Linked DNA regions of Homo sapiens. The protein of the gene in region 1 purifies or fractionates together with the protein of each later gene. This does not show direct contact. Each region holds a gene or a part of one and is shown in the gene's direction. Other genes may lie near its edges.

Region 1 (7,546 bases):
AAGGTACACACACCATCCTCAGACTCTCCAGGTGGCCCTGCCACAGGAAGGGAGCTGAGGCCCTGGGCTAAAGGGCTGGCCACAGGTCGCCCTTTGAACTTGAGACTGCCTAAATCCAAAGCTGACCCTGAGACTGGAAGAAGAACCCCTCCCAACGGAGGCCTTAAAGGAAGGAGGGGAGGGGACCAGGGTTCCGGGGGTCATGGTGGAACAAGAACAAGCTCGCTGACTGACAGCCTGGGGGAACTCAGGACACCAGCACCAGCCACTTGGGAGATTGTGCGGGGGGAGCCACTTCTGAGCCAGTGAGGACCCCAGGACCAGCCTGGGCCCTCCCGCTCAGGTTTTTGGAGTACTGGAAGATCAACTGAGATTTCACCCAAGTTTCTTGCCACTGACAAAATGACCACTACTTGGGTACGAGGCAGATTAGGTAGGCCTCTCAGCTGCAATTCAAGCTAGTGTAAGCAAAAACGGGGATAATTGAACTGAAAAAGTGAATGGCTTCAGACCTGGCTGGATCCAGGTACCCATGGCGGCTACCGGGACCCTCTCTCATGCTCTCCACCTCTCGGCTCTGCTGTCCTCAATGCTGGCTTCATTCTCAGAAGGCTCTCCCCACTGTTGGCAAGGATGGCCCCCAGCAGCTCCAGGCCCATACCTGGCCAGCTCAGCAGCCCCAGCGGACAGAGGGAGCCTTTCTTTTCTTTTTTCTTTTATTTTTTATTTATTTATTTATTTTGAGATGGCGTCTCGCCCTGTGGCCCAGGCTGGAGTGCAGTGGTGTGATCTCAGCCCACTGCAACCTCCGCCTCCCGGATTCAAGCGTTTCTCCTGCCTCAGCCTCCTGAGTAGCTGGGACTACAAGCATGCAACACCAGGCCCAGCTAATTTTTGTATTTTTAGTAGAGACAGGGTTTCACCATGTTGGCCAGGATGATCTTGAGCTCTTGACCTCGTGATCTGCTCGCCTCGGCCTCCCAAAGTGCTGGGATTGCAGGCGTGAGCCACCGCTCCCGGCAAGGGAGGCTTTCTTAATGGCGCCAGCGAAAGTCCGAGGGCCAACGCCCATTGGACTAACTTGGGTCATGTGTCTGTCTCTGAAGTAGTCACTGGGTCTGACCCTTCCTGGCTTGGACGACATACTCCTGTTTAGAGCTGAAAGTGGAAAGTCTGCCAGAAAACGGGAGGCGGAGCAGGCCTGGCAGGGAGGTCCATGGCACTTCCTCCCCTCATGCCCAGGGCCCCGCCCCCGACTCCACTCCCAGACCTCAGAGCTGGAGCATCTGCAACTTCTGATCAGACTCCAGCCCACCTCACCCCTGCATGCAGAAATAGGGGTGCTACAAGGGGAAGCGGGGAGGGTGTGTGGGGTACCGAAATGACCTGGGACAGACCTGGGTTCCCATTCAGACTTTGTGTCTGAATGGGACACAAAGCTGTGTGTCTCCGGGCAAGTCACTGACTCTCTCTGGGCCTCAGTATTCCCATCTGTAAACTAATAATAACAATCAACACATTGACAGCACCTACTATGTCCTGGTCTCATTTTAAGCACTTCCTAGATACTTTTTGAAAATCCTCAAACTGACCCTAGGAGGTAGGTACCATCACTATCACCCCCATATTACAGTTGAAGATGAGTGATTCAAGATAGGTCAGGCACCAAGCTCAAGGTCACACCATTAGCAATAGACTCCTCAGGAGCAGAGCTAATGTGAATGAACGTGGCTGGCCCGGCGCCGGGGGCAGATACCTGGGAACAGCCATGAGCTTTGTGATGATCAAGGGGCAATCTGTGTGTGTGCTTGGTGGGATCTTGCAGAGGTTGGAAGAGGCCAGAGAAGACTCCACCAGCTCTTGCTGAAAAAGTCTTGCAGCCTCCCCTCAGCCCTAAAACCTTCCCGGAGAGGTGTGGGGGAGCACAGAACAGGAAGGTGGGGGTGGAGGGAGGAGGGTGGGGCTGTGAGGAGGGAGGGAGGGAGGGGGTTCTCCTTCTAAGCCTCCATCCAGTCCCATTTTATTCTCACAACAGGTTATCAAAAGGAAACTCAGAGAGGGGAAGTGTTTCAGCCAAGGTCACACAGCAAAGGCCCAGTTTCTGGATCTCAGTCCTCCCTTGTCTCATCTTTTCCACTCTGGGGATCCAGAAGTCATTGGCCCAGCCTCCCGCTGTGTGTAGGGGGAGCTCATGCTCTGGGGGTGGGAGAGACCGACCTGTCAGTGACTTGAAGGGTGATCGGTTTGGGGGTGGCAGACACGAAGTCCTGGTAGGAGGAACCCACCAGCCTCCCACCCACCAAGGCTGAGTGTGTGGGCTTCAGGGGCAACAGCAGCTGAAAGGAGGCAGGTTCTCAGAGGACAGTGACCAGTGGCCACCCACTCCCACCAGTCAGGGCAACTGAGAACTATGGGTCCACTGAGTTTGGCAAGTTAGGGGTTACTGGTGACCTTGGCCAGAGCAGTGCCAGAGAAAATGCGGGGAGGAGGAGACAGAGGACAGATGTCTGTCTGCATCCTATAGAAATGAGGGGATGAAGATAACCTGGAAGGGTGACGGGTGCGGAGACCAGGGGAGTGGGCTCTAGGGCATGCCAGCAGGGAACACCCTTGCTTCCCTGAAAATAGGGAAAACTGAGTGCAGGGTGTATGGGAACTCTCTATACTATCTTTGTAACTTTTCTGTAAATCTAACACTGTTCTAAAATAGAAAGTTTATTTAAAAATGTTGATGGCAAGAGGTGAGAGTGGGCGTGGCTGGAGAGTTTGTAGGTGGCTGGTGGGGAGGCAGGAATTTGAGGAAGGAAGAGCTTAGATGCATTTAGGGCTTCTGTTTTTTGGATGCAAAATTGAGTGTGCAGGAGGCTGGGGGGTGAGGGGAGCGGGGGGGGCGAGGAGCTGTGAGCTAGGACAAATCAAAGGAAGCTGGAAGAGGCTGAGGCCACAGATGCTCATGGCCAGCCATCTGCTGCCCCTCCCCGGCTGCAGGGTCTCCCTCCTCACCAGAATCAGGCTCTTCATGCCTAAGGGTGGGGGATGGCTGAAGCTCTGTCCCTCCATGGCTCTCCCCACTTCCCTTCCCCACCATGTGTCACCCACTCCCTTAGGGATCCCCATGGCAGGCCAACCACACCTACTGGCCAGTTGGTCTAGGGCACAGGGCCTGGCTGTGTCCCTGCCTGGGTGCCTCACTCTAGTGGTGGCCATGGAGAAATTGCCATGGCCTGTGGTCCCTAGACATAGTGGGCACTGACTTCCCAAGGCAGGGGCCTGTGAGTATTTTGAGTTTTAAGAGGGTTCTCCCAACTCCAAAGCGCCAGGAACACTGCCACATAGGCAGCCCTGCTCTCCTTCTCTTGGCATAGCCAATTACCCAACGCAGAACTCGGAGGCCTGGCTAGAACCACCTCCTCCTCCGCGGTGCGGTTGGGACCAGGTGAAGTTTGCTCAGGGAGGTCGAGGTTGGAGGCTTTGTAGTGGTGGAAAAGGCTTCTAAGCGCTGTGGACGGTTTCAGGGTCCCAACCTAGCAAGGAACGGAGTTCTGGAAGGCCCTGGCATGGTGTCCACTCCCTTGCAGGGGGTACTTTTCTGAGGCCCCCTCCCGTTCTGTGCTTAGAGCTTTAGGAGATAAAGGTGCCAAGAGGCTGGCCCTGAGCGTCCTTGGAGGAGCCCTGCCGTGGGAGTCTGGGGTTAGATGCTGCTTCCGGAACTCTACTTGGGACTCCTCTGGGAGGCGTGAGGCTTGAGAGAGAATGCAAAGGATCTCCTAGCTGGCCCCATCTGAGAGGGCACAGGCGTGGAGGGGAGGAGAGGCCTGGAATGGAGGGATAATGAGCTGGGTAGGGGCTGAGAATGGCCTGGAATAAGTGGTCATGGAGCCGAGATGGGGGGCTGTGGTTGGGAATTGGGAACTGGGATCAGGATGAGACTGGGATGGGTTGGACTGAAGATGTGCCGTGACACATGTTGGGGGGGACACGTGCTAAGCATGGGGCTGAAGCTGGGATGGGAAAGCAACTGGGGTGGATTTGAGGGTGGGATGCAGATGACAGTGGATATGATGGGATAGACTAGGCAAGGACCTCTCAGGGAAAGGAGACGGGCCAGGGGTGGGGTGTTGTGTGAGCTGGGTTGGGATGAAAATGGGTTTAACATGAGGTGGGACGCACCAGGAATGGAGATCAATGAAGCAATGGGTGGGGCGGAACCGGATTGGGACGGGGGGTGGGCGGGGGGAGGTGGGGACGGGACTGGGTTCGGGGCTGGAAGGAGGGCTAGCGCCGAGGTTACGGACGGGGCAGGTGAGGGTTCGGGACGTGGGTGGGGCTGGCCCTGGAGCGGCGCGCAGGGGCGGTGGGTGAGGGGCGCCCGGGGCAGGCCGGGAAGGGGGGGCGGGCCTCCCCCTGGGCCGGGCCGGGGCGGCGCTAGGACCGAGCGAGCGGAGGGAGCGAGCCGGGCGGAGCCAGCGCCCCCCGCCCCCCGCCGGCCGGCTCCCCTCCCCCGGCCGCTGGCTCGCTCGGCTCGCGACGCTGCAGAGGCTCCGAGGCGGCGGCGGCGACTCCCTCTTTCCCTCCCTCCTCCTCCGTCCGCCCGTCCGTCCGCGCGTCTGTCCGTTCGGCCCGGTCCGGCCCGAAGCATGGCCGGCGTCAGCTTCAGCGGCCACCGCCTGGAGCTGCTGGCGGCTTACGAGGAGGTGATCCGAGAGGAGAGCGCGGCCGACTGGTGAGCCCCCCGCCCCCGCCCCCGGCCCCTTTGTCCCCGCGCCGCCGCCGCGCCTTTGTTTCTCTCCCGCCCCGCCGCCCCGCCGCCGGGAAGGGAGGGGGACCCCGAAATGGTGCAGCGGGCCGGGAGGGCCGGGAGGGGCTGCCTTTGTGCGCGCCGGGGGAGGGGCCGGCGGGCCAGGCGGGGCACTGCCGGGCCCCGAGCGCCCGGAGGCGGCCCAAGGCGCGCGGTGGGAGCGGCGGCCGGACGCGGCCCGGAGGCGCGGGGTCCCGATGTGGGGCCCGGGGCCGCGTGGCCCTGCGGGAGCCCATCCCCCACCCTACCCCCCGGGCCCGGGGGACAGGTGTGCACGGGGCGGCCAAGGGCACCTTCGCCACCTTCGAGCGGGCGAGGTCCGGGCGGGGACGGGGCGGGGACCGAGCTAGCGGAGCCAGCGCAGCCTGCCCGGCTCAGCCCGGCCCGGCCACAGCACAAAGGAAAGCGAGGGCGGGGGAGGAGCGGAGCGGGCTGGGGGCCGGGCGCCCCGCCCACCGGGGGGCCTCTCGGAGTGGGCCGCCCTCCCCCCGAAACCTGGGCTGGAGTGAGGTGGAAGGATGTTTGCTGCCACATGGCGACCGCGAAGTGACTCCCTTACCGCCGCGGGTCGCGGAGGAGGCAGGGGTGAGCTCTCCTCCCCTACCTGAAGGGGACTGCGGGGACTAGGCAGCTGGGCTGGGGGGCACCGAGCTGCCTAAGGGGCCAGCTGAGATCCCTGGGAGGAAGCCCTCTGGAGAACAAGTGTGGAGGGAGCCCCCAAAGACGGCTGAAGGGGTGAACAGATCCACCGGCCCCCAGCAAGGGGCACTCGGTCCCTGATGGGGGAGGAGCTGGGCCGCCCCTCACCCCGCCCCCCAGCTGTTGTCTCCCGCTGAGCTGGGGGAGGGGATGGACCACCTGCTCTGGGGCTGGCGGCCCAGGGTGGTGGAAAAAGGAAACCGAGGGGTTCCTCACAGCCCCATCCTGGAATCCTTTAACCCCCCCGTAATACTCTTCTTCTAGGGAAGGTGCCCATCTGGTTCCTAGGCCTCCTCTCCCTGCTGGCAGATGGGAACAGGTTCTTCTTGAGGAAACTGAGGCAAAGAGGAGGGCAGGTCTGAGGGACCCCGCTTGGGCTGGCCTCACCCGCACACTGGGAGGGCAGCCAGGTGGGGACTCTGACCTGGGGGCTTCTGGAGGAGAGGATGAGATGGCTGGGCATCCATGGCATGGTACTGCAGCACTGGCCAGCAGCCAGGCCTGGAGGGATGGACGCGAGAGACAAGCTCTCGTGTCCTGCAGGTCAGTCACAGGAGAGGCCGGCACAGGCTCAGCAGGCAGGCGGCCCACCCATTGTCCCAGCCCTGCCCCAGGGGGGCTGAGATCATGGGAGGAGCTCTGGGCAAGTGGCCGGCTTGGCCTGGTGAAGGAGCTGGCTTTGGGATAAGGCCCCGCCTGGGGAGAAGCACAGCTCACCCCAGAACACCTCCTTTGCCCTCCAGCCTGGAGGGGTGTTGTCTACCAACACCCCATTTTCTCCTAAAAGCAGAGCTCTGGTGGCCTATTGCCAAGGCCACACAACCCCTGTTGCCCCACATCCTGCTCAACACAGGCCTGCCCCCACCCACCCCAGCAGCATCCGTGTGGCCAAAGCGAGTTATTCATCACTGGTGTGCGTCAGCCCCCATCTGGGTTGTGTGTGGGACACACACAGATGCACACATGTACCCTCGCACATGCACACATTCGTTCACTAAGGGCCCAGATAACATTTTGAAAAAGGGGTGTGAGGATCACTTTCTACACAAGAGAATATGAATACCCCAGGGCCCAGCATGGAACCAGGGGTGCAGTGAGGTCTGAAGACTCAGAGGCAGACCCTGCACATAGGTCCAGAGGGAGGGGTGTCTTGGGTAAATTGCTGTCTGCCCCCCGACCCTTACCTTGCCTCCAATGGGGAGGGGTGGTTGGGGGAGTTCACTCCTAGGTGGCAGGGCCTCTGAAGTGCACCACTACTCTGGCACAGGGAGCAGGGGACCCAGGAAATGAGGTTGTGTGGTGGGAAGGGCCACTGTTGTCCTGGTTGTGATATGACTCACTGTGATCATACACAAGTTCCTGGTCCTCTTGGAAAGAAAAGGGATTGGGCCCAGCACTACCTCGGATACTGAAGGCCTTTCTAGCACCACCATCCTGAGAGTGATGGTCCTGCGGGGTCCACCTGCCCTCAGCCCCCGACTCCAGCTCACCCTCCACCCCAGCTCACCCCCCATCCCAGCTCACCCCAGGGTCTCTGGAACTGCCACATTCCAGCTCCCACCTCACGCTAGTTCAGTTTATCTGGCTAGATGGCTTTTGAGTTGGTGTCAATATCACACATACTTCTGGTATGCGGTGTGCTGGACCCCAGGACCCAGAGAGCAGGATGTGCTGATTGACTGAGTCAGCGTTCCTGCCTTCACCAGGCTTACAGCTGGGGGCAGTGTCTGTCTCCAGGAGTTGGAGCTGGTGAGATGTGTAGATGCCTGGTCGCCTACCCCATCCTGATTCCCTGTGGTTTCGCCAGCTTCCACCTGGTGCACCACCAGGCTCGGGGTGCCTCTGATGTGGTTGAGAAGCACTGGTCTTTGTATTCCTGCTGGGATATGGTGGGTGCTCTGGGAGGGGCAGCTCAGGAGAGGCTGCTGGGGGCCAGCACTGGGCTCTGAAGAACGGAAGCATTCCACTGGGAATAGGCGTGGGGTAGAGGAGCAGGTCTTGCCTTCCACGTGAAGAGAACTACATAGGCAGAGGCTTCAGGGTGAGCCC
Region 2 (7,463 bases), on another chromosome or scaffold:
AGAGCAAGATTCTGTCTCAAAAGAAAAAAAGAAAAGAAAAAGAAAGAACTCATTGGATCCCTACAGTAAACCTCAGAAGTGAACACCATTCGTATGCCCATTTTATGGATGGGGAACCTGAGGCACAAAGAAGGGAAAGTGACTTCTTCAGGGTGGCACTGCTGGTAAGCAGCAGGGCTGGGATTCACTCCCTGGCTCACGTGATTCCGAAAGCCAAGTCGAAAGCTGGAACCTGGGGATCTCCTACTCCTGAAAGTGCTCATAGAAAGCTGTCACAGGGGCCAAGGGCGGTGGCTCACGTCTGTAATCCCAGCACTTTGGGAGGCCAAGGCGGGCGGATCACGAAGTCAGGAGATTGAGACCATCCTGGCCAACATGGTGAAATCCTGTCTCTACTAAAAAAAAAAATACAAAAATTAGCTGGGTGTGGTGGCGAGTGCCTGTAATCCCAGCTACTCGGGAGGCTGAGGCAGAAGAATAGCTTGAACCCAGGAATTGAAGGTTGCAGTGAGCCGAGATTGTGCCACTGCACTCCAGCCTGGCGACAGAGTGAGACTCCATCTCCAAAAAAAAAGAAAGCTGTCACAGGTCAGGCTTGTTCTAGGTGCAGGGACAAATCCATGTAAGAGGTGAACAGTAACCAAATCATGCCATAAACAATAAACAGACCTGAAGTAGTCACCAAGACCTTCACTGGGAGGTGGGCACCCAGCTTTCGGGAAGAGCAGGTGGACTGTCCCTGCTCTGGTGGCACAGAAAGTCTCTGGAGAGGAGAGACTGTTTAGCCTCACTCCAAAGGCTAGGTCAGATCTAACTAGGCAGAGACCAGAGCCTGAGCCATAAAAGCCATTCTGCAAATGCAGTTTTCTTAGTGCTGAATGAGCTGTTCAGGCTCCCGCTTGGTTTCCCCTTTAAGGTGGGAAGCTCATTCTCCCACACCATTTTTCAGCCCCAAAGGAAAGTTGCTTTCCTAGTCAGACACCTTGGGGTGGCCTCTGCCTGCCCTGCAAGGACATCTCAAGTCTGTTCCTTCCTTCCTTCCTCCCTCCCCCCCACCCTTTTTTGTTTTTGTTTTTGAGACAGAGTCTCCTTCTGTCACCCAGGCTGGAGTACAGTCACCTGATCTCAGTTCACTGCAACCTCTGCCTCCTGAGTTCAAGCAATTCTCCTGCCTCAGCCTCCCGAGTAGCTGGGATTACAGGTGTGCACCATCACGTCCGGCTAATTTTTGTATTTTCAGTAGAGACGGGGTTTCACCATGTTTTGACCAGGCTGGTCCCAAACTCCTGACCTCAGGTGATCTGCCTGCCTCAGCCTCTCAAAGTGCTAGGATTACAGGCATGAGCCACTGCACCCAGCCCAGTTCTTTAGAAGAGAGGCCTCCAGACCTAGGAAGAAGAGGGCCCAGACTGGGGTGGGGGCAGCAGCTCAGGGCAGCCCTCGTTAGAGACGAGGTCTCACTATGTTGCCCAGGCTGGTCTCGAACTCCTGAGCTCAAGCGATCCTCCAGCCTCGGCCTCTCAAAGTGCTGGGATGACAGGCATGAGCCCAGCCCCTTTCTGTGACTCTTATGTTACCTGTTTATTATATGACCAGGTCTAGGTGCTCCTCTAGGGCTGGCCCATCCATCCTGAAGCCTCAGTCTGACCCAGCATAAGAGTGACTATTCATCCCAGCAGGGAAACTGAGACACAGACTCTGTTTTCCCAGCTGCAGCAAAGAGTGGCAGGGCCTTTGCCCACGAACCTAATGGCAGGCACCCCAGAGGACAGCTGCTGATATTGACTAAATCCTTCATGTTTCTCCCTCTACTAGAAGCCCTGCAAGCATCGGCCCATTTTCCAGGTGAGAAAACTGAGGCCCACACTGAGGAAGCCAGTGCCTCAGTGTAGACTTGGCTAGTCCAGCTTCAGGTTGGGGCTGCTCAAGGCCAGCCCTGTCCCAGCCCCTCCCAGAGACCGGAGAGGGTGTTCAGGAAAGCAACTCAACCCTTCACTGTCTCTTTCACTGTTGCTTTCTGCCCACACAAAGGGCAAAGTCTGCCTGGGCCCCTCGCCCAGCCGCCCCTGTAAAATAGCCACAGGGCCCCACTTGTGCACTTGGCAAACTCTAAGCAGCTTCCAGAAGCCTTGGCCATGCCAGCACCTTTCCCAGATACTTTTTTATTTTTTCCATTATTTTGTTGGTAATAAGGAAAAGTCATTTTTTGCACAGAACAGACGGTATTTTCTTTGCTCCCCACAATGTTCAAGCATTTCGTGGCTTCCGGCCTGAGAACAGAGCCAAATCCTTCCCTTGTGCAGATGCCTCGTGAAGTTAGAAGCAGCCAGGGAAACCGAGTCTGTGCCTCAGTTTCCCCTGTGGGATGAACAGTCGCTCTTGTGCTGGGTCAGACTGGGGCTTCAGGATGGATGGGCCAGCCCTAGAGGAGCACCCAGACCTGGTCATGTAATAAACAGGTAACATAAGAGTCACAGAAAGGGTCTGGGCTCACACCTGTCATCCCAGCACTTTGGGAGGCCGAGGTGGGAGGATCACTTGAGCTTAGGAGTTTGAGACCAGCCTGGGCAACATAGTGAGACCTCGTCTCTAAAAATAAACTTTAAAAAAGAAAAAAAAAAGAGTCACAGGGATTGGGACAGGGGAGGGCAAGATCCCTTCCAAGGCCAGGGTAGTCAGAGAGGCTTCCTGGAGGAGGAGACAGGGTGGTGGCGCTGAGCCTGGAAGGACAAGGCAGAAGAGATGCCTGCAGCGAGGGCATTCCAGGTGGAAGGAACAGTTTGGGCAAAGGCCTGGATGGGGGAAGACTCAGATCTTGGCGCAGGAGTCAATCTCCAAAAACAACCTGACCTGGAATTCACCTAAAGGTAATTTGAATGTAATGTAACCGCCAGCTCAGATATACTATTCTTCTTAGAAGGAAACAGAAATAAAGGAACAGGGAAAGGAGACAGGAGCAGAGGTCTTGGAGATGAAAAGCAAAAGCCTCTCTGAAGTTGTCAAAACACTCAAGTGTCGGCCAGGTGTGGTGGCTCACGTCTGTAATCCCAGGACTTTGGGAAGCCGAGGGGGGCAGATCACTTGAGGTCAGGAGTTCGAGACCAGACTGGCCAACATGGTGAAACCCCATCTCTACTAAAAATACAAAAATCAGCCAGGTGTGGTGGCATGCACCTGTAGTCCCAACTACTCGGGAGGCTGAGGCAGGAGAATTGCTTGAATCTGGGAGGCAGAGGCTGCAGTAAGCCGAGATTGTGCCACTGCACTCCAGCCTGGGCAACAGAGTGAGACTTTGTCTCAAAAAAAAGAAAAGAAAAGAAAAGAAAAACTCAAATGTAAGATCAGAGCTTTAGGGCGCCACAGGCCTTGGTTCCAGGGAGCTGCAGGACCTCTGTCCACAAACGAACCAACGGCGCCGCACCGTGTGATTTTGGAGACGGTGCCAGAGAGGGGGCGGCACCAGGATTGACAAGTGGGACACATGGGCTTGGGGCTGGGGAGGTGGATCCTAGTTCAACTCCGGAAGGATGCTCTCCTGGCAAGTGTGGGAAGGGGGTGCTCCCTGTGACCAGAGGTGACAAACGCAGGCCAGTGGAGGCTGAGGGGATGCAACCATGCGTTGGAGACATTTCCTCAGCCTTTGGATTTTGGAACCCTCAAACAACAGCAAAGATAACCTTAATCCAACCATTGTGGGCATTTTTACCATCGTCTTGGGAGGGACAGAGGTGGACAGACGTCCCTGCTTAGGGATGGGACGGGCAGGGGAACAGAGGCTTCTCTCTCTTTGTCTTGCTTCCCGTTCCCTCCCGAAGTTGATCTCTTCCGTTTCCTGGCAACACCCATTGAGCACTTACTGTATGCAGACCCTGAGACCCACTGCCCCCTCCCCAACCTCACTGGGCCACCCATGTCAGCCCGGGAGGGACCTGACCTCCCTCACAGGCCCAAAGTTATGACCTCAGGTAGTGGGGACAGAGGCAGCTGTCTCCTGAGAAGGTGACAGGAGGGTGAGGTCACATCGCTGTCCGTGCAACTCTCTCCATCTGCTTCCTATCTCTCCGCCTGTCTCCCCCGTGTCTCTGTTTCTGGGTCTCTTTCTCATCCCAGATGTCCCTCTCCGTCTGTCTCTCTGTCCCCACCCTCTGCTCCCAACCCGACCCCACGCAACCCCCCCCCCCACTCCCCCTCCACCGCCCCTAACCCCCTCCCTCAATCCTCCGTCCCTTCCCCAGTCCCGGCCCCCGCCCCTCCCCCTTATCCCCTCCCCCATACCCTCTCCCAGTGCAAAAAGCCGGCAGGGGGCGCAGCGGGGCGGCCTTGGCGGCCCGGGGAGGCGGGGCGGGCGGCGGCCGCGTCGGGACCGGCCGCGATGGGACCGGAGGCGGCGCGGGCGGCGGCGGCGCAGACAAAGGCACGGGCGGCGTGGAGGGCGGCGCGGAGGGCGCGGGCCCGGGAGCCAGGGAGCGAGCGGGGCGCCCGGCAGCGCGGAGTCAGCGCCGCGGGGGCCGCACCCGACTCGCGCCTGGACACTCGCGGGGCGCCGACCTGGCAGGGTGAGCCCGGCCTGCCGAGCCTGCGCTGGGAGCGCGGGGGCCTCGAAGTCCCAGGGCCAAGGGGAGGGCGTGGGGGTTCCCCAGAAGTTTCGGACCCGGGACTGGGAGCGGCGCGAGGGGTCCCCAAGTTCCAGGGCTGGAGGGAGCGCGGGGGTCCCGAAGTTCTGGATTCAGGGTCTGAGAGGGGACTGCGTGGGAGGTTCCCAAAGTTCTGGACCCGGCGTTGGAGGAGGCTGCGAAGAGGTCCCCAAAGCTGCGGACCTGGGGTGGGGTACTGGGGTGGGAGGGGTCCGGACGTCCCGGACCCAGGGACTGGAGGGGTGGCAGGGGGTCCTCGAAGTTTAGGAGTCTAGGACAACGCGGAGGACCGGGGTCCCGGACCCAGTTAGAGGAGGAGTCACGAAGGGAGTCCCCGGAGTTACCGACCTGGGGTTGGAGGAGGCAGAAGAGGTGTCCCCCGAAGTTCTGGACCCAGAGACAGGGGGCGTCGCGGGAATCTCGGAAGTTCCAGGGTCAGAGCCCGCGTCCCGGAGTTGGGGCGTGCACTGGGTGTCCTGCCTCGGGTGGGGATGGGATCCTGAATTAATATTAACCCCCCCGTCCCCCGCACTCGGGTGCATGGGATGGGGCCTCATCCACCGGCCAGATTGGGGATCCCGGGCACCGGGCGGTGTCGGACCCCCCTCCGGGAGCCCCGTGGCCGGCGGCATCCGAGGCGCATGACTAGTTGGTGAGTAACTTTCCCCAAACGCTGCAAGTCGCAGCAGGAGCTGCCGGACCGGAAGGGCCTGGGTTCCGGGGACCCCTGTGTTCCCCAACTCCCACCCGGCGCAGGACCCGCCCCCAGTCCAGGCCAGAGCTGCCGCCCCACCCCCACTCAGGGGCTCCGGTTTCAGACCCTGTGACCAGGACAGCAGCTGCCCAGGACAGGATAGGGGGGGCATCCCCCCTTTGACCACAGAGGCCGCTGGGCCAGGGCCTCCCCTCCCCCACCTGTCTTCCCCCTCCTCCAAACTCCTCCTTGGTCCCCTGCAGATTCGGGGTTGCTGAATGGCCCAATGGGGAGGTTGGGGAGCCCTGGTCTCCCAGTGTGGATTCTGCTCTGCCCTCATGGTGGGCATTGGGATTGGCTGTTTGTCTACATCTTGTCTTTTTAACTTGGCTGGGGGCTCCCTGGGGATTTGGACTCTGGACTTCAAGGTGTGCTTCTGCCCTAGGGTGGGAGCTGCTGGGGGTGGGGTCCCTCTGCAGGGTGTAGTGGGGAACTGGTCTCCTGGTACTACACACCTCTCAACGCCCCATTTTTTGGTGGAGAGCCCCGCTCTGGCCAGTCATGGGTGAATGTGGTGGAAAGAACTCAGCAGAGATTTGGCCTCCACAGCTCAGCCTGGGATGGAGGGGACTTCACGGGGGTGCAATAACCAGGACAATGAGAAATTTACATCTGGATGTCAGCGGCCACCAGGCTCCTCTCAGAGGGCCATCTCCTGTACAGGGTGTTGTGGGGGCTTCCCCTAGACAAAGAAAGATGGGGTCTGCTTGCTCTGAGTTATCTATAATAATTATCTTACCTTTTTGTTTCTTTTTATAATTTCTTTCTTTTTTGAGACAGGGTCTCACTCTCTTGTCCAGGCTGGAGTGCAGTGGCCTGACCATAGCTCACTGCACTGCAGCCTTGACCTCCTGGGCTCAAGTGATCCTCCCACCTCAGCCTCCCCAGTAGCTGGGACGGCAGGCACATGCCACCACACCCAGCTAATTGTTTAAATTTTTGGTAGAGATGGGGTCTCGCCATGTTGCTCAGGATGGTCTCGAACTCCTGGGCTCAAAGGATCCTCCTGACTCAGCCTCCCAAAGCACCAGGTGTACTTTGGGCCTCTCCTGCCTTTTTGATTGAAAGTTCCATGACGGGCACACCTGGTGATGGGTCCTGAGATGGAACCTGCTTGGCCTCCCTCAGCCTGGCCTGAGGGACACTCATAGTCCCTCCTCTCTCCCTAGGGGCCAAACCAGTGCTCCTGCCACCTCTCTGGCTGCCCCCTAGAGCCTGCCCATCCCAGCCTGACCAATGTCCACAGCCAGGTGAGCTCCCACCTCCCCCAGCCTGGCCCTGAGCTTTCTAAGTGGGGGTGCCTGGCCCCCACCAAACACCCTCTCCCCACGCAGGGAGCAGCCAATCTTCAGCACACGGGCGCACGTGTTCCAAATTGACCCAGCCACCAAGCGAAACTGGATCCCAGCGGGCAAGCACGCACTCACTGTCTCCTATTTCTACGATGCCACCCGCAATGTGTACCGCATCATCAGCATCGGAGGCGCCAAGGTCAGGGTGGGGTCTGGGTGGGGCAGAGGCACCAGGAGTCCTGGTGACAACCTTGGGTCTGGTGGCTGGCTTGCTGTGTGCCCAAGGGACAGGAAACCCTAAGCCTTCCCAGGCCCTAGTCTCTATCTCCTGAAAGGGTTCAGAGTAAAGACCTTCAAGACCCTAATACAAGGTAATACCTGGGGGGTTTCATGTTTGTTAGTATCTGTCCCATCTACCTTGAACTTTGTTCCCCGACCCTAGGCCATCATCAACAGCACTGTCACTCCCAACATGACCTTCACCAAAACTTCCCAGAAGTTCGGGCAGTGGGCCGACAGTCGCGCCAACACAGTCTACGGCCTGGGCTTTGCCTCTGAACAGCATCTGACACAGGTGGGCCGGGTGAGGGGGAGAGTGGAGGGAACCGATGAGACTGGGCCCAAGTCTTCTCCTGGGCTCACTCTGGGATCTTGGGCAGGTCCCCTATCTTCCCATCTGCAGGATGGGATTGTAGGATGAGTTGAGACTGAAGCCCCTTTAAGCTTCCCCGGTTTGATTCCTAGTTCATTTTTCTGTTTTTTTTTTGAGATAGGCTGCAGTGA

The links. The genes of interacting proteins can lie anywhere in the genome.
Region 2: the proteins of DBN1 (region 1) and HOMER3 purify together in Homo sapiens (co-immunoprecipitation; 4 studies listed by BioGRID and IntAct, with this or other methods). This does not show direct contact.

The regions. Positions count from the first base shown.
Region 1 is NC_000005.10:177,470,613-177,478,158, reverse strand, and holds the start of DBN1 (drebrin), read left to right. Parts: upstream 1-4,524; 5' UTR 4,525-4,637; coding exon 4,638-4,723; intron 4,724-5,318; exon of another isoform or gene 5,319-5,383; intron 5,384-5,661; exon of another isoform or gene 5,662-5,948; coding exon of another isoform or gene 5,949-6,040; intron 6,041-7,546. UniProt on the Homo sapiens protein: Actin cytoskeleton-organizing protein that plays a role in the formation of cell projections. Required for actin polymerization at immunological synapses (IS) and for the recruitment of the chemokine receptor CXCR4 to IS.
Region 2 is NC_000019.10:18,938,144-18,945,606, reverse strand, and holds the start of HOMER3 (homer protein homolog 3), read left to right. Parts: upstream 1-4,389; 5' UTR 4,390-4,556; intron 4,557-4,982; exon of another isoform or gene 4,983-5,756; intron 5,757-5,971; exon of another isoform or gene 5,972-6,557; 5' UTR 6,558-6,624; coding exon 6,625-6,638; intron 6,639-6,722; coding exon 6,723-6,879; intron 6,880-7,122; coding exon 7,123-7,254; intron 7,255-7,463. UniProt on the Homo sapiens protein: Postsynaptic density scaffolding protein. Binds and cross-links cytoplasmic regions of GRM1, GRM5, ITPR1, DNM3, RYR1, RYR2, SHANK1 and SHANK3.